4 linked regions of the Homo sapiens genome follow. The protein of the gene in region 1 interacts with the protein of each later gene in a pairwise test. Each region holds a gene or a part of one and is shown in the gene's direction. Other genes may lie near its edges. The genes, in order: BLK, BANK1, CRKL and JAKMIP1.

Evidence for each region.
Region 2: the proteins of BLK (region 1) and BANK1 interact in binary tests that used the Homo sapiens proteins (3 or more experiments, as listed by UniProt).
Region 3: the proteins of BLK (region 1) and CRKL interact in binary tests that used the Homo sapiens proteins (3 or more experiments, as listed by UniProt).
Region 4: the proteins of BLK (region 1) and JAKMIP1 interact in binary tests that used the Homo sapiens proteins (3 or more experiments, as listed by UniProt).

Annotation. Positions count from the first base shown.
Region 1 is NC_000008.11:11,553,387-11,560,412, forward strand, and holds part of BLK (tyrosine-protein kinase Blk), read left to right. Parts: exon of another isoform or gene 1-194; intron 195-743; exon of another isoform or gene 744-817; intron 818-1,356; coding exon 1,357-1,503; intron 1,504-1,945; coding exon 1,946-2,098; intron 2,099-2,199; coding exon of another isoform or gene 2,200-2,465; exon of another isoform or gene 2,466-2,476; intron 2,477-2,679; exon of another isoform or gene 2,680-3,271; coding exon 3,272-3,451; coding exon of another isoform or gene 3,452-3,529; intron 3,530-4,503; exon of another isoform or gene 4,504-4,575; coding exon 4,576-4,652; exon of another isoform or gene 4,653-4,879; intron 4,880-7,026. UniProt on the Homo sapiens protein: Non-receptor tyrosine kinase involved in B-lymphocyte development, differentiation and signaling. B-cell receptor (BCR) signaling requires a tight regulation of several protein tyrosine kinases and phosphatases, and associated coreceptors.
Region 2 is NC_000004.12:101,786,280-101,793,754, forward strand, and holds the start of BANK1 (B-cell scaffold protein with ankyrin repeats), read left to right. Parts: upstream 1-4,450; 5' UTR 4,451-4,601; coding exon 4,602-4,671; intron 4,672-7,475. UniProt on the Homo sapiens protein: Involved in B-cell receptor (BCR)-induced Ca(2+) mobilization from intracellular stores. Promotes Lyn-mediated phosphorylation of IP3 receptors 1 and 2.
Region 3 is NC_000022.11:20,948,397-20,954,263, forward strand, and holds the end of CRKL (crk-like protein), read left to right. Parts: intron 1-1,314; coding exon 1,315-1,449; 3' UTR 1,450-5,351; downstream 5,352-5,867. UniProt on the Homo sapiens protein: May mediate the transduction of intracellular signals.
Region 4 is NC_000004.12:6,197,544-6,205,025, reverse strand, and holds the start of JAKMIP1 (janus kinase and microtubule-interacting protein 1), read left to right. Parts: upstream 1-4,476; 5' UTR 4,477-4,773; intron 4,774-7,482. UniProt on the Homo sapiens protein: Associates with microtubules and may play a role in the microtubule-dependent transport of the GABA-B receptor. May play a role in JAK1 signaling and regulate microtubule cytoskeleton rearrangements.

The DNA of each region.
Region 1 (7,026 bases):
AGGTTTTGTGAAACTGAAGCTGATAGGATCTGAGGTCGTCTTTACAAAGGACACCAAATTGTCAGAAGCCATCAGGGACGGGGCCTCAGAGCAGCCAGGCAAGTGAGGGGTCTAAAGCACCAGCTTGGGAAGCGTCACTGCGTGGAGAGCGGGCTCCTGGGCTCATCGCCCGAGGCACCCGACACAAGTGCAGCCTACAAAATGGAGAGAAAAGCCCTTGATGAATGAACTCCCTAAGGCCAGGCTCGGGTTCCTTAGAGACTGGGGGCACAGCTGCACCCGGGCAGGGTCGGGGAGACAGTTTGCAGCCTCTGGGCTGAGGCTGGGGTGGGGGTGTGGAGGGGCTGTGGCAACAGCATGGCGTACGCCTCTGGGTGTCCTTTTGCAAGTAGGTGATGAGAGAGGCACATTGGCTGAGGGAAACTGGAGGATGGAAGGGGGTTGAGGCAGGGGAACTGACAGGAGAGGAAAGAGCCTTAAGTCAAACAGGACCGCGGAAAACCAAGCGTCCACAACGAGAACGAGGGGTCCGTGCCTGACCCCTGGCGGGGAGGCGTGGTACTGCTCGAGGTAGGCGCGGACTCGGGGAACCGGGAGCCCCCCAGCCTGCCGCGAACTCTGCTGGGCCCCAGCGTCCTCATCTCCCAAATAATGGGTAAGGGGCGGGGTAAGGTCATGGTACCCAAGTAGCTGGACAGACGCATTTTATAAAAACATCAAGTTCATGGAAAAGCGTTTCTTACCTGGAAATTCTTACCTCCTAAATTGTCCTTAACCCTTGACATCTGCTACCACTTGCCTGCGGGAAAACATTAACCTAGAAGACAAAATAACAGGTGTATGTAACAGGCAGCAAATGACTTTGAACAGAGCCCCTGGGCATAGCTTATTACGGTGTCCGCCATGGACATGGGTACTTGCAGCTGTGAATGGCTATCTGCTTGTAGGAGTAAGAGATACCCTCTTTAGCCAGAAAATAAAGCCCCTAGTCACTCCAACGAGACTAGATTTCTCAATAGTCCATGACAAAGGGTCCCCGAGTGACCAGATGCCCAAGTGGGGACCTACATGATTGCTGAGAAACTGTGCTGCCTGCCGCAGGGCTCTGTGATTCCCTGGCTGAGTTTTGCAGGATAGTGGGGGGATGCCAAGGTCAGAGTCAGATGGAACTTACAGGGGAGGCTTCCAAAAGCATGGAGGTTGAGATGCAGGGAAAGGAAACTTGTGGAGGGAGTGCTGATAATGAAGAACAGAATTGGGGAACTTTTTTCAAAGCTTTAAAATGAGGCCCAAATCCCAGTCCCGTTTTTTGTCTTTGTGCCTTACTTCTCGTGTGTGTCTTCATGAACCCTCCAGGTGCCTTCTCCCTGTCTGTGAAGGATGTCACCACCCAGGGGGAGCTGATCAAGCACTATAAGATCCGCTGCCTGGATGAAGGGGGCTACTACATCTCCCCCCGGATCACCTTCCCCTCGCTCCAGGCCCTGGTGCAGCACTATTCTAGTAAGAGGGGGCGTGCAATGGGGGCAGGGACTTGTGCCAAGAGCCCCTGGATCTCTCGCTAAGATTCCCAATTGTGTGAGTCATTGGTGCCACCTTGGGGGATGGAAAGATTATCCCAAAGTTAGGCCTAAGGAGGTAGCAACTCTGAGCACCGGGAATTGGTGGCCCTAATTCCCTCTCCTGGCTCAGCAGGGAACCCCTTAGAGAGTAGCAAGCATTTTCAGTCTTAGAGTGAGCAGGTCGATTTTAGAGATAGCATGCCCTGCTTTGCGCAAACGAAGAGAAAGAGTTGAGTGTGTGTGCATGTGCAGGCGTGTGCACACACCCATGCAGGGGGTGGGGTGGCTGGGGAGTGGAGGGCCAGCTAGGAATGATACAGCTCCCAAGGTAGAGCCTGGCTGCTCTGGTAACCCCCAGCCCTGTCTTTTCTTCCCTAATGCAGAGAAGGGGGATGGTCTATGCCAGAGGCTGACCCTGCCCTGTGTGCGCCCGGCCCCGCAGAATCCCTGGGCCCAGGATGAATGGGAGATCCCCCGGCAGTCTCTCAGGCTGGTCAGGAAACTCGGGTCTGGACAATTCGGCGAAGTCTGGATGGGTGAGTGTGTGCACACGTGGGAGCATTTCTCCCCCCATTCCACCTGCGCCGCATCCTGAGTCCAGGTTCAGCATTTTCATAGCGTGTCATCCCTCCCCCAGAAGTCTTGAGAGGGAGCGAGGACAGAGGCGAGGACACTCATTTTACAGAGGAGGAAGTGGAGGTGCAGAGCCGCGTTGTAACAGCTGGGACCGCTTATGGTGGTGGCAGAGCAGGAACAGAATCCAGCTCACCCAGCCCCGAAGTCGCTCCCTCCTTCGTTCTCTGCCTGAAGCTGGCTTTGACAATGAGCTGCAGCGGCGCGTTAACTCCCCTTAGCTTTTCATCACCCAGATGGAAACAGGAGGTTAAACGTGATGAGCCATGATGTTCCAGAGCCTGAGTGCACACCGAGGGCAGCCGTGGGACTTTGGCCAAGTCACTGAAGCTCCAGGCCTGGTGTCCTCACATTTCCATCGCTGCTGACACCTGCCCCCTTCCCCCCCCCGCCCACCAGGATATAAAACTCGTGTTCCGTTTTATCCCTGGATTGGTCCATGAGTCCTCCCTTACCTGGGGCTGGTCCATGAGTGCTCCCTTACCTGGGGCTGATGCCCACGGTGCTTTTGGCAGGAGCTGTACCCAGGTCCCTGCCAAGGCCCATGTCCTCTAGAAAAGCAAGTAGAGTTGTCTTTTGCCCTTCAGGGGACTTCATGGAGTACAGGGAGAGTGTGGAGATACAGATAGTTTAAGGAGTGGGACAGGATCGCCATGGGGCTTCAGAAGGAGGGAAGGAGACCCCCATGCGTCATCCTCCTGCCCAGTGTACCCCAGGCTGTGTGCTTATTTCCACCAAGGAGTTATTGTGTGATAGAAGAGACTCATTATGTAGGGGAGGGGTGGGGGAAGGACACAGGTTCCGTGCAGGACAGAAGGACACAGGCCCAGGGTGTGGGGCAAATAGGTGAAATGCCCCCCAGGCAGGGTACATTCCTCCACTGCCTGAGGCCCCATATAGAAGGGACCTGGAACGCAAGGTAGGCACCACACAACCATGGCCTCCGGAACTGCATGTTCCAGCTCTGGCACCTGGAATGGGGTGGCACCTGGGCACTTACCCCGATTTTGGTTAAGGGATCACCTCCGAGCAAGCTCTCTGTCTTCTGATTGGCTTCTTCACTCCCCCGGGCTCAGGTTACTACAAAAACAACATGAAGGTGGCCATTAAGACGCTGAAGGAGGGAACCATGTCTCCAGAAGCCTTTCTGGGTGAGGCCAACGTGATGAAGGCTCTGCAGCACGAGCGGCTGGTCCGACTCTACGCAGTGGTCACCAAGGAGCCCATCTACATTGTCACCGAGTACATGGCCAGAGGTGGTGCCCCCCGCAGAGCCGCATCCTCAGAGCGAGGCGGGAGGGCCGGGCTTAGCAGGAGGAGGAGGGTCCGCTGCGGTGGGTTCACCAGGCCAGGGGGTCCTGCAGATCTAGGGCATGGCACGGTGTGGGGACAGGGAGGGATGGAGGGAGGGGGAGGGACAGAGGGAGGGTGAGAAACAGGAGGGTGAAGTGGTTCTGACAGAGCCATGTTCTCAGCCCAGGAGCAGTTCAGACAGCATTTCTGGAGTGCATCTTCTGTGCCTAGCACTCTTTGATGCCTGCTGGGAGGGACAGAGCATTGCAAAGTCAGACGAACACCAGGCCAGGCATGCAGGGACAGTACTAGATCCAGGTCTCCTGCCTCCTGGTCATGCAACCATTTACAACTGTGTGAATATTTTACAAGGATGGCCAGAGAGGTTGGGCTTGATGGCCTCTGAGGTCCACGGCGTGGCCAAGTTCTCATGCCACTTTCTCACCCTCCTATGACCCTGACCGCACACTGCTCCTATAGGATCCTAACATGCCCATGTTGATATAGCTCCCTAACAACTGTCACCAAGGGGCCCCCGGTCGGAGGCTGTGCTGGGGGTGCCTCTAGCCTGCCCCTAGGGCAAGCATCCATCCCTCCCAGCTTTCTGATTCCAGGGGGAGCTGCATTTGTCCCCTGCACCAAACCTGGGGGACAGTTCTCTCCATTCTGGTGCTTTCTTGCTGATGCCTGGTCCTCAGAGGCAGAGGGTGTCTGCCAGCAGGGATCAAGGGAGCGAGGCCAACACGGGGGGAAAGACAAGAAGGGGCATGAAACTTCGAGTCAGAACTGGGGTCCCACTCCCAGCTCCCGGCTGGGTGACTTCAGACAGGTCCCTGCACCTGGCTGAAACCTAACTTCTGGGCAACTGCTGGTATATTGGCTGCCTCCCGGGGTGCTGAGACTGGCATTTTGTAAAGTGGAAGGCACTCGGCAGCAGTAGGTAGATCCTTCCTGATGCACCGAGAGATCTGAGGGTGCAAACTCCCACTTCCCGCGCCCATGGGGAGCCACTCACACCAGAGAGAGGCTGGCACCACCAGGGGCGGGTCACTTTGCAGAAGGGCACTTGCAACTTCTCTTTTCTTAGGATGCCTGCTGGATTTCCTGAAGACAGATGAAGGGAGCAGATTGTCACTCCCAAGGCTGATTGACATGTCGGCGCAGGTTGGTGAAGTACCAGGTGCAGAGAAAGGGCGGCATGTGCCACCTGCTGCCCACAATGGCTGCTCGTGCCTTACCACCCCATCCTCTCAGCCAGCAGGAGAAGTCAGGGGGTACTGAAGGCCACCTTCCTCTAGGCAGATATCCCCAAGGTCACCCACTGCACTTGGACTTGCAAACCCTGGCCACTGTGCCTCCTGCCCCACGCAGCTGTGAGGGAGCCCAGGGAATGGAGCCTTAGACCCGGGCTGCTGTGTTGGAATGAGGCTATTCTGTTCCGAAGGAAGAGAGGGCGAATGAATGTCATGGGAAACACACAGAGTTAGCAAGAGTTCCATTGAACCCGGCAGGCAAGTGTGTTCTGTTGTGACCTCATCTCTTCCTTAGATGGTGCCCACAAACATCTCCTGTAGGACTTCCCATCCCAGGGGCCCTCAGCCTTTGCACAGCCCTGGCGTCGACCCCAGGCTGATGGGCAGGCCTGAGCTACACACAGATGCCAGGGACATGACTTCTCTGAGCCCTGGAGGACAGCCCCACCTTCTGCCACCAGGGAATTGCGAGTGCTGGACCTCCTTGGCTACCCAGGACTGGTCCTCAGTGTCCCTCACGTTCACATGCAGAACTTTCTGGACTCCATGGGGTGAAGAGCAGAGTGGAGAGGAGGGTTTTAGCCGAGAGCTCTAGCTGGCAGGAAGCACATCTGGTGGCCCTGTTAAAACTGGAACTCTCAGCAGAAAAGTTTTGGTCTGTGGTCAGCCTGTGAGGCACACACGTGCGTACACATACACACACACATACAGCTGCCACCGAGAGGAAACGCTCCCACCCACCGCCCACATCAGCCCTCCCACCTCGCCCCTCGCCCAGCCTTACCCAGTAGCGCCGCTGCAGGAACTGATGCCACAACGCCTTTTTCCGCTGAGGTGGGCAGACAGCCATCTGGGCAGGCTGGTTTTGGAAAATGAGTGCTGGTAACCGGCTTCAAACCCCAGGGCAGTGATAAGCCTGCCCACTGCTGCTGCTTCCTTTCCCCTTCCTTCTCTCACCCTCCGCTGTCTCCTATTCAATCCCCACTACACCCCCTTGGGAAATCTCGTGTGACCCAGGGGCAAAGGATGTGAAAAGCCATCGGAGTTTAATACCTGGATGTAGCCACAGAATCGGGGGTGAGGAGCCAGAAAATCAGAACTTCCCAGAAGGGCAGCCTCTAACCACATGCTGACCATGCCAATGGCTCTCTAAGCACACATGTACACACACACACTCTCACACACATAAAAACACAGACTCACACACACACGGACAAACACAAACACATACACAGACTCACACAGACACGCAAACTCACACACAGACAGACACACACACAGACACACAGACTCACACACACAAACTCACACAGACACACAAATACACAGACTCAGACTCAAACACAAACTCACACAAACACATTTACACAAACTCACAAACTCACACACACAAACACACACACAAACACGCAAACTTACACACACATGAGCAGACACACACCCGGCCCTTCTGGGCTCTTCTTTTCTTACTCCATAGGAAGCCATGCAAAGTCTCGCCAGACCTTTCTTCCAAGGCCAGATCTGGCCAACCCCACAGGAACCCTGCAATCACAATCCCTCGGGCCCCACTTTGCAGCCAGATGCCACCGGTTCCCATGCCCCATGCCTCGCCACCCCTCTACCTCCTCTGCCCAGGAAGCCTTGAACACTTCCCACCTGGCAGAATCCTTATCATCATCCATGGCTCAAGCGTAATGTCATTTCTATGAAGGTTTCCCTGGACAAGAAACTGCCAGAGAGCCCTTAGCTCAGGTGTTCCCGGAAGCACTGTTCTTGCTCAGCAGATCTGGGCAGCTTCTTCTTGAAAGCAGATCTGGGCCCTACTCAACATTTTTTAAAATATATTTCTGGTACTGTTCAATAAATATTAGTTATCAGAACGAGTACTGTTAGATGCTGCCCAGATATATTTAGTACTCAGTTTTATATTCCCCACAGTCCCATATTAGTAAATGAGTATTGATTGCATGGTGTAGCAAGGGGATGGATGGATGCATGGATGGGTGGATGCGTGGGTGGGTGGGTGGGTGGGTGGGTGGGTGGATGGATGGATGCATGGATGGATGGATGGATGGATGGATGGATGGATGCATGCATGGATGGATGAATGGGTGGATGGATGGATGGGTGGGTGGGTGGGTGGATGGATGGATGGATCCATGGATGGATGGATACATGGAAGGATGCATAGATGGATGGATGGATGGATACATGGATGGATGCATGGATGTGTTGATGGATGGATGGGTGGGTGGATGGATGGATGCATGGATGGATGGATGCAT
Region 2 (7,475 bases), on another chromosome or scaffold:
GTTTTATAGTATTGTCTGTTAAAAGTCAGATCTAGGCCGGGCGCGGTGGCTCACGCTTGTAATCCTAGCACTTTGGGAGGCCGAGGCGGGTGGATCACGAGATCAGCAGATCGAGACCATCCTGGCTAACACGGTGAAACCCCGTCTCTACTAAACATACAAAAAATTAGCCGGGCATGGTGGCGGGCGCCTGTAGTCCCAGCTACTTGGGAGGCTGAAGCACGAGAATGACCTGAACCCGGGAGGCAGAGCTTGCAGTGAGCCGAGATTGCGCCACTGCACTCCAGCCTGGGCTACAGAGCGAGACTCCGCCTCAAAAAAAAAAAAAAAAAAAAAAAAAAAAGTCAGATCTACGGAGCAAGGTTCCTTCCAGCAAACTCACTGTTGCTTGTTAGCACAGCCAGGAGTCTAACTGGAGGGGCAGTGGTGGTGGTGTGTGCTATGGTATAAGCAGAAAACCTGCTTACTTCTACAAGTCAGACTCAATATACTTGAAAAGAGAAGAATCAGCACATTTATACAATCACTAGAGAACAAAAGCAAGTATATAATGCAAACAGCCATGCAGGAAGGAATATCAAATAGCTACCACAATCACCAATTAACAATGAGATATTGCTCCATGGGGACTTAGAACATGAATGGTGAAGGGAATTAAATGTTCTTTAATGTATGTTTAGTTAGAAGAATGCACAAAGATTTACCCTATTAATGAATCTTCCTCCAAACTCATCACTGTGAATTATGTGTTAGCTTCCTATCACCATAAATTAACGTATTAGCTAGCTACTGCTGCAACGCATTACTACAATTTAGTGGCTTAAAGCAAACTAAATTTATTATATTAGAATTATAGATGTAATAAGTCCAAAATCAGTCTCACTTGGCTAAAAGCCAAGATGTCAACAGGGCTGGTTCCTTCTGTAGGCTCTGCAGGAGAATTCATTTCTTTGCCTTTAGGCTACCTGTATTCCTTGGCTTGTGGCCCCTTCCTCCATATTCTAAGCATATTCCTCCAATCTCTGTTTTCTCATCACACCTCCTCTCTAACTTTCACTTTTCTGCCCCCATCTTATAAAGACTCTTGTGATTACACTGGGCCCACCTGGATAATCCAAGATAATCTTCCCATCTCAAGATCCTTAATTTAATTCCACCTTCCAGGTAAATACATATATACACAGGTTCTGCAGATGAGAATGTGGACCTCTTTGGGGGGTTGCTACACAGATTAGTATTAAAGAATTCAATTAAATGTGAGGAAGCAAAAGAAAATAAAGCCTCCCAGTAATGACAAAAAAAAATTGCTAAAAATTCCTTCAGACATCCCTGGTATTTGGTTTAGTTTTGAGGGAGTAAATAAGAAGTGTAGTTAACACCCTGGGGGAATAATATAATTCAATGTCTAAAAATCCAGACATGATTGTCAAGAGGAATATTCCCCAATTAACAAATAGCCATGAAGAAGCAACTATTTCACTTTTACAATAGATTACTGCTTTAGAAAAGAACCAGTTTTGTTCTTTAAACATATCCAGAATCTAAAGGCAGAAATAAAGCCATTAGCATGCACAACAGCATCTGGTCTGCAAAGGACACAAGAAATCAGCCATGGCAACTGCAGGGCAACACCAAACAGCTTTAGCTGTCCATTTATTGGAACACAGGGCCAGTGTGAGGCTTTTATAATCTTCACAGAGTGGGGTAATAATATTGAGGCTGTCAATATGCCGCTAAAAAAAATAATGCAAGGGAAGAAGTCAATGGATCCAAGAGTTTGATATATTGAGAAATGAGAAACCTACTGTGACTAGCATTTTCTTGTCATTCTGTAACAGAGGTAAAATCAGAAACCTGCGATTACACACTGCTGGTGGTATTTTGCCTGAAAAAGCCTCTCGGTGTGAGAATTGCTAAGTGCCTCTTTCCTGAGAACAAGTATGAACCAAGAGATAACCCAACATTCCAGATGGTATCATCTCCTTAAGGGAGAAAGCAGGGGAAAAATAAAGTCAACTGTGATTAAAGACGTACTTGACACAGAAACAAGACCAAAATGAGTAAAAAATCTTTTAAAATATATTTTTATAAATGCATCAGCAAAGTATGAAAACATGTAGACTTAAGTTATCACGTGTATGTGTGTGTGTGCGCGTGTGTGAACATCTATATATCCTCAACCAAATAGCACCAAAATTGTAATAAATTATAAGTACAGTTCATACCTATTTTTAAGGATATTAGTATTTAATTGTATGGGCTTATAGTTCTGTGGAAAAGTGGATAGGGAAACAAAAAACGTTTTCAACACATATATGTATAACCTATCCTATTATGTTCATGTAATCTTTAGCAAGGGCCTTATGTGACCTTAAAAGGAAGCGGTGGGGAGGGGGGCAGTTATAATTAAGAGGGCAGGCTATGAAATCAGATCTAGGATTGAATTCCAGCTCTGCCACTTACAGTTTTCAACGCCCAGATTCTTCATTTGTAAAATATGGTTAAACCTTCCTTGTTTTGAGAACCAAATGACATGAATATTGTGAAACTCTTACATAGAACATAGGATATAGAATACTTAAAAAAAGAGTAGTTGTTGACTGCAAACAGTAAAACAAAAGAATAAATAAGTCAGTCAATGGGGTAGTCAATGGCTATTTTCTTATTCAAAAGAAAAGTGAAGCTAGAATAATTTTAATGGGAGATTTTAAAGATTTTCTAACACATAATCTTATTTTTTTTAAAAAAAAAACAGCCCACAATTTTCAGCAGTTTTTACTTTCTTTTTTCTATTTACTAGCATCATTTGACATAAGTAGTGGAAATGAGCTTCTGAAAATATACTTAATTTTCATATTATAAATCTTATTTTCTATAGTTTTATTAGGAGACAGTGTTATAACATTTTATATCTGGCAGAAACTCGAATACAGTAATTTTAATTTATTCATTAATAATGAATAAATTAGATGAGATACGCAAGGCTCAGAAATATTAAGAATTGCTCCAAACACCCAGATATTGTGGAGCAGAGTCAGGATGGCAGCTGCAACCTTCTGACTTCCAATCCAGGGCTCTTCATACAAGAAGGCTGTCCTGTATATGTGACAGATACAAGTTCCTATCTGAACACTGTCTTTATTAACAAGTTTTCGTGTGCATAAATGGGTGCCTTTGAAGATCTGGATACTTAATTGGGGAGCATCATCTGGAGTGTTCATGTTGGCTAAAGTAGCTCTTGTCAGGAATACGTATACCAGCAGATGCATCAGTTAGAATATTCTTTTCTCCAATGGGTTTAAGACATACTTTCCTAAGAATTGAGTTTCTGAAACACTGAACAACACCCAAACCCTGCAATCCAAATTTGTTTTTGCCTATTACACTGAAGTCTCTCTGTTAACAGGCATATATAGAAGACAACCATTTTTTTCAATATAATATTTCATAAGTTAGATGAAATCTTTTGTTCCATTATATAAAGTTCAGAAAATCAACATAAAATTAATAATGATGTTAAAGAAACTACTGGAAACCAGATAAATACAATACAATCTATAATTGTTTTCAAGTTTTTTGGACATTTCGCATACTTCTCCAAGTTTTCTACATTATGTTATAAAGTTCTAATAAGTTCATTTATGTGAAAAAATTAACTTTTTTTGATACTTGATATTTATATTATTACTAAAAAGCACTTCATCCGAGAGAAAGTTTCAAAGAAAGCCTTCCTTTTATAGGAAGAGGAGAGGAACATTTAAACTATGTATTATTACCAAATTGATATTCAAAAAATATATTCAACTTCAAAAGGCAAATGACTAGTTTAGACATGCTTGAGAGAGAGACATTCACTTTAAGGTTCTGGGACAACTCCTTTGATATATCTCCATCTTAAAAACAAGCAAACAAACTCTTGTTTGGAGAGGGTATTTAGAGCCATAAATAATTTTTTACTGGGTCTATTTTTGAGTTGGAGCAGGAGTAAGAAATACATTTTATATGGAATTTTAAATCACTTTTCAATTTATGAACCTAGCCTAGAAAGTCTGTGTAAAATGAAATATTTTAAAAGTTACAGTATTATCTGTATCTTCATTTCTATATGTATGTATCTATCATCTGTGTACCTACTCATCTATCTATCTAATTATTCTTTCTTTCCAGCAAATGTTCACTTCTGGTTTCCCTACGTCTGCCTGGAAGTGGGGGCAGTATGGCAGTATGGAAGACCTAGAAAGGGACAAGGAGAGCTACAATAACAGCGGTCTAAATATATCCTAGGATGAAAAGGTGAGGAAGGAAACAGGCGCAGAAGTGTTATAAGAAACCAAAGCGGCCTTTTGAGAAGGGATGTAAGAGCAGGCCCCTGAGCAGTTTCACTTCCTCTGGGCGCCCAGCAGAGCGGAGCCCTGGCCTTGCGGGCATGAGCCCCGGGGCTGCGTTTCCTGAGACCTGGCCGCAGCCTCCGCGGGTGGCAAGCGGGCTGGGGAGAGCCGAGGGCCAAAGGAAGAGAAAATCGCGGGGAGTCTCTGGCCGGGAGAGTCCAGGTAGCGCTCGGCGGGCAGCAGTGCGCAGGCCCCTCGGCTTCAACCGCCACAATGCTGCCAGCAGCGCCAGGCAAGGGGCTTGGGAGCCCGGACCCCGCCCCCTGCGGCCCAGCGCCCCCAGGTGGGTAGTCGCGCATTCGGAGGGGCTTGACGCCGAGGCCGGGCTACGGGGCTCTGCGGAGACCACGGGCCATCGTTAGACAACTGCACTCGGGCACTGAGGCCAGGGCGTCCCTGAGACAGGGCTTCTCCTTTTTATCCTGCCGCCAGGCAGCCCAGAGGGTTCTTCTGTCCCTGACTTCTCTGAGGGGCATCTGGACGCCACGAGGAGGGAGCGCGCTGGGAGTTCTGGCCAGCGGGCTACCCTCAGTGTCTGCAACTTCTGAGGAGCTGGAACTTTCCCCAGCACCCGGGTCAGGGTCCTGTAGTTTCTAAAATCACTTTGCAACCTGTTTTAAAGCAATGCGCGTTTAAAATTATACGTAATTATTTTCAACAGTCGGTAAGCACAGAAAAACCGCTCATGTGTAGCGTCACGCATTTACCTGCCCGGCCTGACAAATCCCAGCCTGGTGAATTGGTAGCCCTGCTTCTTGGCAGGTGGCTTTGCAGAGAAACTCTACCAACACCACCTCCCTACTCCACTGGCTTTACTAACTTGGTCAAAGGAAAACGGTCAACTTGGTTGAATGCAGAAGTAGATTTATATTTTCAAATGGACGTTAAGGCAGTTTTATTTAGTTCTTTTTGAAGCATTTCAAATGCATTTGCAAATTACTCAGTGATATAAAAATGTTTTTTAAATTAAAAAACTTCACTTAGGTATTAATATTACTGGAGTGTTCGTGGTGAGAAATGCAACAAGAAAGTATATTCTGAGTGAAAGTTTCTTAATTTGCTGAATAGAAATAAATTTCTCATACCTTTCTAGAATTTTTTAGGTAATGTAATTTTGGTTGTAGCTATTTCTGTTGGCTAGTGCATTTTTACATAAATAAGCTTTAGGGATTGCTTTCAGTTAAATAAGAAGTATATTTGTGTCAATGAAAAGTGACAAGAAAGGACTTAGAGCCCATAACTTAATATTATTAATATTTTAACTATTGCATATTGACATTCTTGAAAACTGTGGCTCTGATGGTCTTCAGCAGAGCAGACTTTGCTAGCATCTATAAATAAACCAACCATGTCTTTCAAACTTTGAGCAGGTTACCTCTTTTGTAATTTCAGTTTAACAATTTTGTTAGAGAATGGGGTACAGTTTGTTTCAAACTTCTAGATTAAACAGTTTAGGCAGAAAATGCCTTTTATTTCACTTGATACTAAGCAATACTTTGAGGCACTTGCTATTGTGAATAATGCAAGAGTAATGTGAATCAATATTTATAGCATTCCAATTATTCTTGTTCCTCCCATGCATTCCGCTCCCCCCCCGCCCCGCCCCTCCCAACTCCTTGGGTCCTTCTCCATGCAGTATTTATCACTTGCTTCAGTTACTTCCTTTTCTGGCCAACATAATGAAACTTTTCTAAAAACGAATTGTCTTTTGACATTATCCCATGCCCATATTCTTGATATGAGTAATCTTCTAGCTTTTATAAATCCAGTGGTTTGTGTGTGTGTGTGTGTGTGTGTGTGTGTTTTTTTTTTTTTAATGAAGAGCTCCCTCTCTCTCCAACAACTATCTTAATATGGCACATTGGGGGTCAATTGGTCCAACTGCCTCATTTAGAGAAGAGAGCACTGAGATCCAGAGTGTGAGTTGCTCATGGTTTCATAACTAGTAATTATTTGAAGGTCACCCATTCATTAACTTAACAAACTTTTATTCCCTGCCAAGAGTCATGTAGTAGTAATAAGAATGTAAAATGGTAAACACAGTTTCATGCCCAGGAAGGTATATTTCTAGCAGGAGATAGAATGTACTGCTAGACAACATTAGTGTATACTGCCATCAGAGATTTATTAACTGTTGAGTATCGACTTGTTCTTTAATGGAAGCAAGAAAAATAGAATACCCAGTTCTCTAAAACAAGGTAAAAATGATGCACAATGGGTGAAAGTTCTAGTTAGAATGTATTTTCTGGTTTGTATTTAACTATATATTACTATCAATGTCCAAAAGAGAGATTCTTCCTGTTGTATTCCAAAACTAATGATTTTAAAAATTTAATTTTAACTGCTGTTTTAATTAGGGAGTGATTATTTATTAAATCACAGATTTTTCTCCACACCATAGTTTTTTTTAAATTTTTATTGATATTATTGGATGCATCTGATGAAACTTTAATAAATGATTTGCTTAAGAACAGAAAGCATGAAAGGGTGGAATTAGCATTTAGACTGTTTCACCTTACGCTGGATGCTTATACTTGTAAGGAACATGGTTTGTCTAGGTCTCTGCTCTCTAGCTTGAAGTTCTTAAAGATTTGAAGCTTTTTGCTTTGACTGCAATCTTCCAACATAGCCAACGTCCTACACTTGTTCCACTAAGGAAATAACCTGGTTCCATGCTGGTGGCTGGAAAAACTTGCTTTCTTCAGACCAATCTGGAAATGTTCTGATAAGGTCACTTTTGCTAGGATTTTAAAGACAAGGAGTGCTTTCAGGATATCTTCACCATAATAAGGAATAATTCTGAAAAATGCAATTGCTGAAGATTTCAAGGTTAAATATCAGCATATTCAAAGTTACACTTGGGACAGTAGAGGAACCTTTTCTGCAATATCTATCTGAGGATGTATTGTAGGTGGTTATGCCCTACTTATGATGGTCTTTTGACTCATACTGCCTCAGATCTAGTCCCAGCTTCATTGCCTGTCTCATCTGTGACCTTGAATAAATAATGAAATCTGTCACTGTCTTAGTTTTTTATTTTGTTTATTAAAAAGCAAAATCCAAGAGAAGAAATCCTGTATATGAAAG
Region 3 (5,867 bases), on another chromosome or scaffold:
GCTCTTCCCTTCGTGCATCCAAAGGGTATGATCATTAGAGGGGGCGTGGGGTTGGGGGATGGGTTCTATTCAGGAATCTCTACTCAAGTAACAATCATTTAATTACTGCAAGAACCTTTCAAAGTTGGAAGGAAACTGAGACTTGGAGAACTTAAGCAGTTTGCTACAGTCATGTAGTTTCTAAAAGTGGCAGAACCAGGACATTTGTTTGGTGTCCTGCATGCTCCAAAGTTCATGGCACGGACCATTGGACTGTGCCATAAAAACCTTATGCCTGTTTTTATTTTGAGATGTAGTCTTGCTGCGTTGCGCCGGCTGGTCTCAAACTCCTGGGCTCAAGCAGTCCTCCCACCTCAGTCTGCCAAGGACCTGGAACTAGAGGCATGTACCACGATGCCTGGTTCTATATGTGTTTAAGCAGACAAAAGCTTATTTCTTATTGTCTTAGATCTTAGGTGGGTCTTATATTCAAGTAGCGTTTTTATGGACCTAAGTACACAATACAGAACCTTAGATTAGTGCTCTGCTGAACAGAGTAACACCCTGTCTACAATGACTACCACCTGAAGGTCTTTTTTTAAAATACACCTTTTTGTGTAATTTGACTTTAACCATTCTCAGAATCATGTGTTCATTTCTATCCTGTTGGGGTTAGTGGCCAAAATAGAAGGTTGGTGTGGGGTGGGGAGCTGCTTTGTGCTCAAAAGCTGTTTCTGTGTGTGTGTGTGTTTTGATTTTTGTTTTTTTGAGACAGGGTCTCACTCGGTTGCCCAGTCTGGGGTGCCGTGGCACTATCACGGCTCACTGCAGCCTCAGCCTCATGGGCTCAAGCCATCCTCTCACTTCAGCCTCCTGAGTAGTTGGGACTGCAGTCATGTACCACCACACCCGGCTAATTTTTCTATTTTTTAGAAGAGATGAGGTTTCACCATGTTGCCCAGGCTGGTCTCGAACTCCTGACCTCAAGTAATCCCAGGAGTTCAAGGTTACAATGAGCTGTAATCGGGCCACTGCATTCCAGCCTGGGCGACAGACCCCGTCTATAAAAAATTAAAAAATAATGTGCATGGTGGTGCACGCCTGTAGTCACAGCTATTCAAGAGGTGGAGGTGGAAGGATCACTTGAGCCCAGGCGTTAGAGGTTACATTGAGCAGGGATCTCACCACTACACTCCAGCATGGCTAACAGAGTGAGACCCTGTGTCTAAATAATAATGTATGGGCCCTTTGGATAAGGTAGTGTTTGTGATTTAATGTAAACTGTCTTTTTCTTGTTGCAGAGAAATGCTAACTTTGTCTTCTTCATCCATACAGGTTGGTGACATCGTGAAAGTCACAAGGATGAATATAAATGGCCAGTGGGAAGGCGAAGTGAACGGGCGCAAAGGGCTTTTCCCCTTTACGCACGTCAAAATCTTTGACCCTCAAAACCCAGATGAAAACGAGTGATTGCTGTTGCCCTGTTTCCTGCTGCTTTGTTGTTCTGCCTGTCCTAGTCTCCTTTGAAGTGGGAAAGCATTTTCTCTCATAGGCAAGTCACACTGCATTGCCGAAGTCCAGCTTTCTGCAGACTGGCAGTCGCACACACATTTGGAATGCACACAGCGGCTGCCTCCTGATGTTTGTATCATAGTCGTATTGTCAAAGAGTAGCCGATTTTAGAGTTCTTTTGGATCATAAACTGGAAATACTGATGGAAGCACACAAGTGGAGAGAAGTTGACATGGAAAGGGTCTTCCTTCTCATTGCTGCCCGTTTGTACATGGGACTGATTCTGTTGTGTTCACCAGAGAAAGCTTGAGGCCATGGCGAGATACTGCATGTTTGCTGTTCCACAAAGCAGTGGCTTAGCTGCCATCTTGCTTTTCTTTGGACAACAGGAAGTGAACCTTAAGGAAGAGAGAATTCTGTTCTAAAACTCCAAAATCTGGCTTTTTTTTTTCTTTTGTTTTGGTTTGGTTTTGGAAAACTAATTAATTAGACTTGTGTGGGGGTTTTTTTTTGTTTTGTTTTGTTTGTTTTGTTTTGTTTTTTTGAGACGGTGTCTCGCTGCATCACCCAGGCTGGAGTGCAGTGGCGCAATCTCGCCTTCCTGCAGTCTCCGCCTCCTGAGTTCAAGCGATTCTCCTGCCTCAGCCTCCCAAGTAGCTGGGACTGCAGGCGCGCACACCACGCCCAGCTAATTTTTGTATTTTTAGTAGAGACGGGGTTTCATCATGTTGACCAGGCTGGTCTCAAACTCCTGACTTCAGGTGATCCACCCGCCTTCAGCCTCCCAACGTGCTGGGATTACAGCCGTGAGCCGCCGCGCCTGGCCTAGACTTGTGTGTTCTAAACAGGTTAAGTAGCAGGTTGGGTTTTTATGATAGTGCAAGGAATGACTCATGCCTCTGAGCTTCTAAACTGAAGCTGCTGTAACTAAAGGAATCTGAAAAGAACAACCCTGAAGCAGAGGCCTTTATTGTCTTGGTTGCCAGTAGTACCTTGTTTTGCCATGTAGCAGACAACACACAAAATAATGCAGTTGTGGTGTGCCATGCTATGTGCACAGCCCCTTGGATTACTTTGTTTTAAAAAGCATCAGAGTTGGGGGTACTTTAGGGAAACCTTTGCTTACCTTGTTTTGCCAGTGATAAGAGCAGTGGGTTGGAGGGCACTTGGCCAGTTTTCTGTTCAGCTTTTCAGTGAATGTACCCCTTTAAGGTTCAGACTTAAACTTCCTTAAAAAGTGGCGTTGTTCATAGAATCGTTGGACTCATTAATGAATCGTTCAACTCCACTCACTGAAGCCCAGACCTCCGTGCCCAGGCCCAATCTCGTCAGGCTGCCAGAGAAAGTTGGTGCTGCTCATACTGGTCTCACAGTCTAAGTAAGTGTCTGTGATGCTCCCAAGCAAAGGAAATGCAAGCTCTGGAAATTCGTTAATGTATTTGATGTCTTAGTGTTTTAGTGACTAGGGAGACCATTAACTAGTTTATCATTAACCACTTATCAGTGTATTGATGTTAAAGCATTTCCCTGTTAGCTAAAAGAGGCCTGTTCATACAAGCCAACTGGTATATACGTGTGGTTCATCCATCATCTGCTGCACATAGCAGACTAGAATTCTGGGAACCCTGTGCAATTCAGTCTGCTCTCCCTTGTGGACCCTGGTAAAGAAAAGCCTCAGCTCATAGTGAACACAGCAGACCTAGAAATGTAGCAGCAGCCTACTGAGTAGCTTTCATTTACTGATCATCTGCTGTGACTGTGGCCCTGTCTGGAGGTTCCTAGGTTTTGAGATTTAGAGCAATGCATTCTGGAGACAGAACCAGCAGAACAGCCATTTTTCAATTTTTCTTTAAATCAGTATTCCATCAGGCAGATAACTGCTGTATTCATGAATCTTGAGAGTGTTCCTGAGACAGAATTAATGGTCATTTGGGAAAACTATCGCCATGGCTTCCCATCTGTGGTTTTCCTCTAAAAGCCTTGGAGATTAGCCCTTCCTTGCCAGTGAGAACGGTGACCGCCTCCTGCTCTGCACGGTCTGCGGCAGTTGCCGCTTCTGGTTAGGTGTGTCAGGTTGGCTTATTTTGGGTTCAGGCCTGGCGTAGCACCCACAAGTGGCAGACATATCACAAGAGTCCCCAGACTCTGCCTAGAAACAGTGTTTGCCCTTTGGCCAGTGACGTGGTTCATCCCGGCCCATGTTGAGCCATGAGTGGAGTTTCCAACAGAGGGAGGAATGTGTGCCTTGTTCAAGGAGGGCACGACCCTTAGGCCTTTTTCAACCAGATTTAGCTGAAGGGCTTGACACCTTTGAATTACAGCAGTTGACTCAGAGTGCAAGAAGTCTGGCCATTTTGGAAAGCAAGGTTTCCTTTCAGCCCTGTCTACTGACCAATACCCCGACTCACCTTGTGTGGCGCACTTCAGAATCAGATATACCTAGAGTATACCTGTGGTTTGGTTTTATAATTAATCAGCTCGTTACTTCAGCCCATGAAAATGGCATCCAGGGCTGCCAGGAGATTCAGAGCTCAAAACAAGGCGAGCTTGAGTTCTGCACTCCAGATATGTGCCAAAACTAGTAAAACTTAACGGACTTACAACCTTGTCAGTTTTTTTAATGAGGCAGGGATACTCTGTTTTTCACACTAAACATATGAATGCAGCACTGCTGCCTCAGCTCAGCTTCGTGCCTGGGTTCCCCACTGGTCTGGGAAGACTGTTGTGCTCCATAGAGCAGTGCACATCTGACCCAGAGGGTGGGTGTTCATAACTGCTACTTGCTCTGCTCTACCATGTTTAAAGAAATATTTGGATGTTAAATTAACTCACTATGGTTTTTCACCTGGGAAGGAAACAAATTACGTACTAGAGGGCATTGACTGGTTAAAAACTTGTGTATCCCGGGAAGGACCTGCGGTACAGGAGTCAGCCATGTCTGTGCTGTGTGGAACCACCTGATGACATGGTTAACGAGGAAGACGATGTGTTGACCGGCTGCCGTTTGAGGACTTTGGTCACCCAGACTAGACACCTTCTGTGCTCATGTTTGGAAAGCTGAAAGGGAAGGACAGCTGTGCCCTCCTGGGAGCTCATGTGTCCCTGGCGCTGTGCTAGCTTTCCTTTACAGCTGTTTACAGACAAGGCAGGCCTGAGGCAGATGGCCACTGCTCTTGTGATGTTTGCTCAGAGGAATATGAACATTTTATTTTTGAAAAGGGATGATGTGGTTTTTTGCCAGGTGTTTATAATTAATCCTTTAATATTATGGTTATTAACCTCTTAAACATGAATGAATTCTTGATTGTTTTAACACAGTACCTAAGACTAATGCTTTCTGTGGACACCACTGAGCTCTGCCTCAACTCCACCCTCTGCGACCGGAGGACTATGCCCCTAGTAACTGCTGTCGGTGTGGACGCTGTGCTGGTTCTGTTTTCTAAAGGAGCAGAAGGACAGGTCTCTGAGACAGGATCGTTGTCCCTACAGGAGGAACAGTGGCCTTGCTTCTTAGACGGTCTTCACTGTGTGTTTTAAAACAACAACAACAACAACAACAACAACATAAAACTCTTTTGACCTGTAACTTAAAGATCATAAACTTCAGGCAATAATATTTTCTGTGTAAGCTTTTAAAATTATTTTTGGGGATCATAGCTTGTTTTATTTTGTGCTATAAAATTAACAGTATTAAATGACTTATATTCTTAGAATACATCGAGTGTCTTTTCTTAACAGATTAGTGCCTTTTTATTTTTGTATTCCGTTTTACGTTACTGGTCCCAGCATCAAAACCCTTGTTTCCATGGCCTGTTTGTATATTGTCTCAATAAAACTTGCATCAGCCGGTGGTGGCGGCAGCTTCGGTGTTTCAGTGTCTCCTCAGTCCGCCCCCACTAGCCTCCTGGCAGTTCATCAGTGGTGAAATCTCTGATGCTTCTCAGAGACCCTTAGTGCTGCTGCTGACCAAGAGCTAGAATGAAGTCTTGGCATCCGCCCATTCCAACACTCGGGCACCCAGAGGAGAGCACCTGGGGTCTCCCTCCAAAAGAGAAATCTGCCTCCCAGAGTGTCTGTCTTGTAGGTATTGTATGGGAGCCTAGTGCTTGGCCTTCTGAGCATGAGGCAATAGTTCCCACAGGTTGCACCACCACAGAGAACTTGGATCTTTTTCCTTCTAGGCACCCATATCTGAGGCTTCTAGTAAATATTTCTTCAGCATGAGCTAACCAGGGTTGAATGGTATCAAGCAGAAGTCATGGGAAGTGAGCAGCCTCATTGCAGGTCAGGGCATGATATCTGTGCGGCTTTCTTGAATCCTTTTCTGTTCTTGGCTGTAGGTGGTTCTCCTGATGAACTTTGGGAGACCTCCAAGT
Region 4 (7,482 bases), on another chromosome or scaffold:
GCTAAGTACAGACCCTTCCAAGGCCTGGGAGAGCCAGAGCTCTGGGTTCATGTGGCCTTGTGTTTGGAAATACTTTCCAAAAGCAAGATATTTTAGCTGTAACTGGCTAAGCTGGCTGCCAGGGTTTCCAAGACAGGGTTCCACAGACTGAAGAGCTTTAACAACAGAAACTTATTTTTCACAGTTCAGGAGGCTTCAAGTCTGAGACCAAGGTGTTGGTTTCCTCCAAGTCCCCTCTCCTTGGCTTGCAGATGGCCATCTTCTCACTGTGTCTCCACAGGGGCTTCCTTCTGTGTCTTAATCTCTTCTTATAAGGACACCAGGCATATTGCATTAGGTCCCACCCTAAAGACCTCATTTAAGCTCAGTGACCTCTTTAAAGGTCCTATCACCAAATACAGTCACATTCTGAGCTCCTGGGGGTTAGGGCTTCAGCACTCAAGTTCTGGAGGACACAATCCAACCCATAATACCCTCTGTCTCTTTCCCTATGCCGCCCTCATCATGCTTCCTCCCACTTCGGAGCTGCTGCGGAGGCCAAGGGCATTTTGGGGATGTAGCTGAAGGGGGATTGAGTTGGGGATGCCTTGGTTTGGGTTTAGTGGGGTGTGTTTATGTAGGTCTGAGCCAGTCTGTGTGGGTCGAGTTGTTGCTCCCTGAACAGGCTAATGGCTCCCAGGAGTGCCCTCCTTGCCATGGCACTGGCAATGTGTGCTATGGTGCCTGGCACCAGGAGTCTATGGGCAGAGGAAGAGACATAAGGGTTGAAAATGTCATTCTTCCAATAGGAGAGGTCTGGATTTGCAGACCCTCAGAGTCACAAGGCAACTGGGGGTGTCGCATAGCCCAGGACTGCTCAGCAGGAGTCACCTGGGGCATTTAGTAAAATGCTGATTCCTAGACCCTGCTACTCTGAGGCTTCAATTCAGTGGGATGTGGAGGAGCCTGGGCATCTGCATTTCTCCTATGCCTCTCCAGGTGATGGGCGCCAGCACTGAGGTTTAGGAGGTGTTAGTCGAGTCATGTTCTGGTTTGCAATTGTTCAGTTGCTTTTCATCATGAAAATTAATAAAATCCCAGTAAGAAGCCTGGAAGAAATAGAATTCTTCCAAGTGTTAGCATTCATTTATGAAAGAATGATAGACCTTTCTCCAAATTTGAAAACAATCTCAAAAAACTACCTGAGATTACCAATAATGAGTTATGAGGCTGACAAAGTTTTCCAACCAACATTAAAATTTGTTCCCATCATTATAGGAGTACTCTGAATTATCTATTTTCTCCACAGGAAAAATATTATAAAATCATTGGCTTCCAAAGAGGTAATCAAAAATGACGAAGAAGCAAAAAATGTAAAAAAAAGAAGATATTATAAAGGTGGATATCAGGTATCCAATTAATACAATTTTATATTAGTTTTATAATGTTTTCGCAACGTTTTTGATATTTGTCAACTTAAAATATTTTAAAATTTGTTGTGATTTGTTATTATTCTAAATAAGTTTTCATTTTTGTACCAAGTCTTGTACTGGGGTTTTTAAATTCTTCTTCCTAAGGGGGACTGTAGCGGCTCCAGGTTTTACAAAACCTGGATCTACTAACCAATAGTTGCCTGTTCAAAAGTCATTCTTCTTCTTTTCCTCACTAATGGAACCCTGACTTTGTTTCAGGCAGCAATGTACCTTCAATTAAAAAAAAACATCCTTGGCCGGGCGTGGTGGCTCACACCTGTAATTCCAGCATTTTGGGAGGCCAAGGTGGGTGGATCACCTGAGGTCTGCAGTTTGAGACCAGCTTGGCCAACATGGCAAAACTCCATCTCTACTAAAAATACAAAAATTAGCTGGGTGTGGTGGTGTGGGCCTGTAATCCCAGCTACTTGAGAGGCTGAGGCAGGAGAATCACTTGAACCCGGGAGGCGGAGGTTGCAATGAGCCAAGATCACGCCATTGCACTCCAAACTGGACAACAGAGCAAGACACCATCTTAAAAAATAATAACAATACTCCCAGCCTCCTCTGAAGCCAGGGCTGGCCATGAGACACCGTCCCAGCCAATGAGATAAAACAGAGCTCTCTGGGGAGAGTTTTCAGGAAAGCGGTGAAGTGGAGCTGACCTAGTGTGGGTATGCCTTTTGTTCTTCCCCTTCTTGACTGGAATAGTGATGAGATGTCTGGGAAGAGGCAGCCAACTTGCCACGTAGAAGACATTTTGAAAAAGAAAATTACATCCTGAGGGTGAAGGAGTGAGAGAGGATAAAGTGAGGAACAGCTTGCCTTTGCATTTCTTGTTAAGAGAGAATAAAAATCTGTTTAAGCCGCTGTCTAGTTGTGATCCCGATTACTCACAGCCAGACATAACCCTTAATCTACACACATGTATCGAAGTACCACCAGCTGGGCTTTTTAAACAACAGAAATGCACTGTCTCACTTCTGTAAGCTAGAAGTCTGAAATCAGGTGTCAGCTGGTCCACGCTCCCTATGAAGCCCTGGGGAAGGATCTGTCCCAGGCCGCTCTCATGGCTTCCGGGGGTTTGCTCCCATCTTTGGCATTTCCTTGGCTAGCTGATGCCTCGACCTGATCTCTACCTTCATGTTCACACGGCATGCTCCCGTTGCTTGTGTCTCTGTATCCAATTTCCCCCTTTTATAAGGATAGAAGGCAGACTGGATTAGGAATCCAACCTACTCCATTGTGACCTCATCTTAGCTAATTACATCTACAACGACCCTATTTCCAAGTAAGGTCATATTCTGAGGTCCTGGGAGTGAGCACTTCAACATACGAGTTTTTTTTTTTGAGGGGGTGGGTGGGGGGAACACAATTCATCCCAGGATACCTGGGCATTGTCCCTGATTGTCCCTCCCTCCCTCCTGTCCACGTCCAAGCCGTGAGCATGTCCTGCCAATTCTGCACCCAGATTGCTCTGATGCGCTGATACTTCACTGTATCAGCGTGGAGGAGGCCCCCACACTGCCTCCTTGTCCCCACTCTTGACTACTTCAGCCCATGCCCCAAGGGCAGCCAGGGCATCTGCTAAAGATAGTCTCACATCTGCTCACAGATATCCTAGTTCCTCCTGACCCCCTGAACCTTAGAGGTCTGCACTTCCTCCTCTTCTGAAGTTAGGCATGGCCATGTGACCTGCTCTGGCCAATGAAACGTGAGCAGAAGTGACGAGAGTCCCTTCGGGGAGGAAGCCTTCAAAGCCAGCATAATTGTCACCTTTCATTCACATTGCTGCACCATGTGGGTGCTCGGCTGGCAGACAGCCCCAGCAGCTTGGGCTCCCAACCACTCTGATGAACAGAGCCCCATTGACCGAGGCAGGATGTATGATGTGGGCAAGACACACCAGGGAGATTTGGGTTTGGTTGTTACTGTGGCTAACATAGCTTATCCTGACTGATGCACTTTAAAAAATATCAATCTGACAATGGTCCATGGGACCACCTTCCAGGTGAGACAGTCTCCAAACTCTCGCCAGCCTGCAAGACCTTGCAAGTGCTGCCCCTCTGTGCCCCCGCCCCCCATCTTCCACACACTCCCTCTCACCATTCTGTGGCCCAGATACTTTTATCAGATTCTCAAATATGTCCCGTTCACAGCAGTCAGGGTGTTCCCCCATGCTGCTCCCTTTGGTGGGTGCTCTTCCCTGCCTTCTCCTTGCTAGAAAGTAAGCTCTGGTGGGCAGCCGCTTCCTCTCTGCTGTTCACTGTGGTGTCCCCACATCTTAGTGACTACCTGGCACACAGCAAGTGCTCAATAAATATTTGTCTAATGACACTGAATGAATGTTTGCCCAGCTGAGTCCTGCCCCTCCCAAGTCTCAGCTCGACAGCACATCTTTCATTTGGCTATGACCTGCTGATGTGGCTTTGCTGGGGGCAGCCTGGGCTGGTGGGGGGAGGCTCCCTAGGCTGGCATCCGCCCAGCTCTGCCGCTTGCTGGCTCTGCCGCCGTTAGCGTGCGCTTTAACCTCTGACCTTCAGACCTCTCATGCGTACAGAGGGGGACATGGATCTCCGGGGTCGCTGCGTCTTCCTGACCACTGACGGCCAGGACGGCCCCAGCCCCGCTTTACCTGCAAGCCCCACTCCAGGCTCGAGCCCCCGAGGGCAGGGATAGCTTCCCGGGTCCCGAGGCTTGACCAGAGCCTGAAAGCTCCTGCCGGGGGTTGCTCCGACTCAGCGAGGCGCCAGGCTGCCCGGCGCGGCTGGGGGCGCTCAGCGCCGGGACCCCAGCCCTGCCCCGGCCGCCCGCTGGCCCAGTGCGCACGCTCCGGCAGCTCAGCTCCCCCTCCCACGGCGGCAGGAGAGCTCCCGGCATCTGCCCGGGGCGGGGGCGGGGGCGGGGCGGGGCGGGCGCCGCGCCCTCCTGCCTGACTGGCAGGAAGACAGACCAATCGGAGGGGCTCCCCGGGGGGAGGGGCGGTGCCGTGCCTGAGCCGGGCGCGGGCGACCGAGGGAGCTGCAGCCACCCGCGTGCGGCACGCGCCGGCCGCCTGCCCGGATCGCGGCCACCAGTGCCGCGGCCTCTCGACTCCCGCCCCGCCGAGCCGCGCGCGCGACTGCCATCCTCCTCAATTGCTTTTTACGATTTTTTTTGTGCATGCATTCATTTTCTGTTCCGTTTTGTCCTTTTTAAGGCGGTGGCGGCGGCGACAGCGGCGTAAGCTCGCAGCGGGGAGGGGGCGGCCGGAGGATGCGGCGCGGGGCTGCGCTCGCTACGTCCGCTGCTGCTGCCCGGCTCGGGCCTGAGCGCCGAGCAGGTGGGTACAGGTGCGCCGGGGGGCGGGAGGCGAGCGCTGGCCAGAGGGAACCCGTGGACCCGGCGACCGAGGGGCGGACCTGGCGGCAAGGGACGCGGCGACCGGTGCCGCCCCGCCCCATCGTCCATCTCCCCCTCCTCCGGCCATCGCGCCCCCTCTGGGTCCCCCTTCCACTCTCGCATCCCACCTCAGTGGTCCCCCACCCTTCCATACCCATCCCCCACTCCTCTTCAGACCCCCTTGCAAAATCTCCCAGCCGCTGCGTCGCTTCCCCCAACACCCCCTCCCGGTCCCGCCCCCAGCCCCCAGCTCTCCTTCACGCCACCCCTATTTCCACTCTTCTCCGGATTCCGCCCTCAAGCCAAGGAGCGGGAGGGGGACCCACCCGGTGCCTGCCGGAGTGGCGCGGGGGGTGTGGCCGGCCCGTCCCCTCCGTGTCTTCCGCAGGGTAGGTCACAGTCCCCCAGATCTCCGCCCAGGTGGCAAAGAAGATGGAGCTGGGGGCCGCGCCCCGGCGGCGCGGGGCCCGAAGGCGAGGCCGCCCAGCCCGCACCCCACCCCACGCACGGCACACGCCGCCGCGGCCCCTGCCACGCACACCCTCGCGCTGCTCCGCCCACGTGGGCGCCGGGGAGGAGGCTCGAGAGATGGGAAGAAAGGCTGGCACCCACCCTCCTGCCGGGCCGGCGCGCCCTGGGCGCACTGGCCTCCGGAGATGGCGCGCAAGGATTGACTCTCGTGGTGCCAGACACCTTGCCGGGCGCCCTGCGTCGGGGCCAGCGGCCTCGCTGGCCTGCGTCAGTGCGCTGCGGCCTCGCCTCCCAGCCCCTCGGTCCTTCGCTCCATCCCCCCTGCTGTGGGCTCCTGAGCATCCGGCCTGGGCAGCCCAGATAGAGGCCGCTTACGAGGCTGGCGCTTCTTTTCGCCTTAGAAGCATCCCGCTCCCACACACCCCAGCTCGCCGGTCTCCTGAAGGCTGGGCCAGCCTCGGCTCTCCGCCAGCCTCTGCCCGGCTCTCTGAGCTCCAGCGATACTGTATCTAACCGCCAGCCCTCCTCCGCCGCCCGCCCCATCTGCGCACACTCGCAGGCACACTGTCCTTGGCCTTTGCCAGTGCTGTGCTCTCTCCGCGAACGCCCTAACTTCAGCTGGCCAGCTCCTTGTAGTCAGGGAGATCCCCTTGCCCCTCCTGAGCTTTCCTGGAACGTGGCGCTGTCCCAGGATGCTGTTACCATCTGATGGCCTCTGCCTTCCAGAGCAGAGGAGGAGGTGGGGAGGAGGGCAGGGGCAGCCTCAGCCCCTCTCCCAGGGCTCCACCCACAGTGAATGTTGGGCATAGCAGGGCCATCCCCCCTAAGTCAGAGTAACCCGCTGGTGTGGAGGGCGAGGCCATGGGAGGAGCTGGCCCTTCCTGTAGCACCCTGGGCTGGTGGGTGGTGGCTCCACTAGCTGGGATGGGCAAGGAGGAGGGACACATTCGGGGATAGAGTGGGGGAATTAGAATCCTTTCCTAGCAGGGCATTTCCACCCTCCTGGAGACCTGCAGCTCTGCAGAGACTGATGTTGTAGCGCACAGTGGAGGCTTGTGGCTTGTTGCAAGATTTTTGTTGCTGTTGAGGTGTGTACCGGTCTGTAATGCTGAACATCTCTGCTCTGGAGTCTGGGGTAATTCTTATCTGTAGTCTTTTTGCAGTAAGCAGCTCCCAAAGGCTCACAGTGTGGACCCAATGCATGAGATGACTGGCATTTTCCTCCTTCACAAACCACCCATGACTCCCACCGCCCCCACGACCTCACCAGTTCCTCACATCCTGGCTTCCCCAGCCCATCTCTCCCCTCTCCCTGCCACAATGTCTCAGCCACGCCTGCTGCCTCTGTGTTGCGTAGACATGTCTTCACACTTGGGTTTTTCCCCCACATGCTTCTTTTTCCCCCCGTCTAAAACAATGCTCCCCTCCCTTGAGTATGTGGAGAACGATTCATGATTAAGCCCAGCTCTCAGGTTCCATCAGTGTGATTTTCCCAGACTCTGCCGGAAAGATTGTGTGCTTCTCTCATTTGTGTTCTCAGAACTTTTTATACACATACAGTGTGATATTTGTTTGTGTAGTTTTTCCTTAAGCAGATCTTGCCCACTAGAGACTGGGGACACGGGACACAGTGAGGTGGCCTGAGAGATGGTCCCACTTTGGTGGGGGCTCTGTTTTCCTGGGGAGGTGACCACACAGACACTGCCCGTGCTGTCAGAGAGTCATGTGCAGGGAGAGATGGGGACAGGCGGCCCGGCCAGGAAGGCTGCACGAGGAAGTGGCAGGACCGTGGCCCCACTCTCTTGGTGTGTAAGGGTGGATTGGGCTGTGGGACAAGTGGCAGAGGGAACAATTTCTAATGCTTAAGCCAGCAGCAATTGCCACTGCAGGCTATGGCTATCTGTTTAACTCCTCGAGGGTGGGACCTTGTGTCTCTTCAGGCTCTGAGCCAGACTGCCAGGGTTCCCATTCAGGCCCTGCCTCACTTAGCTGTGACTGGGCAAGTGCCTCCCTGCTGGGCTTTCTAACTAAATGGGGGCTTCCCTTGGGGAGTCTGAGGATGACTGCAGTGTGTCCCAGTTCTGCTGGGTCACTCCTCTCCCCATAGTGGCGACGGGATCAACCTGCAGGGCTTCTGAAGTTGGACTTGCCTGTAGTTTATCCCTTGTCATTGTGTGAT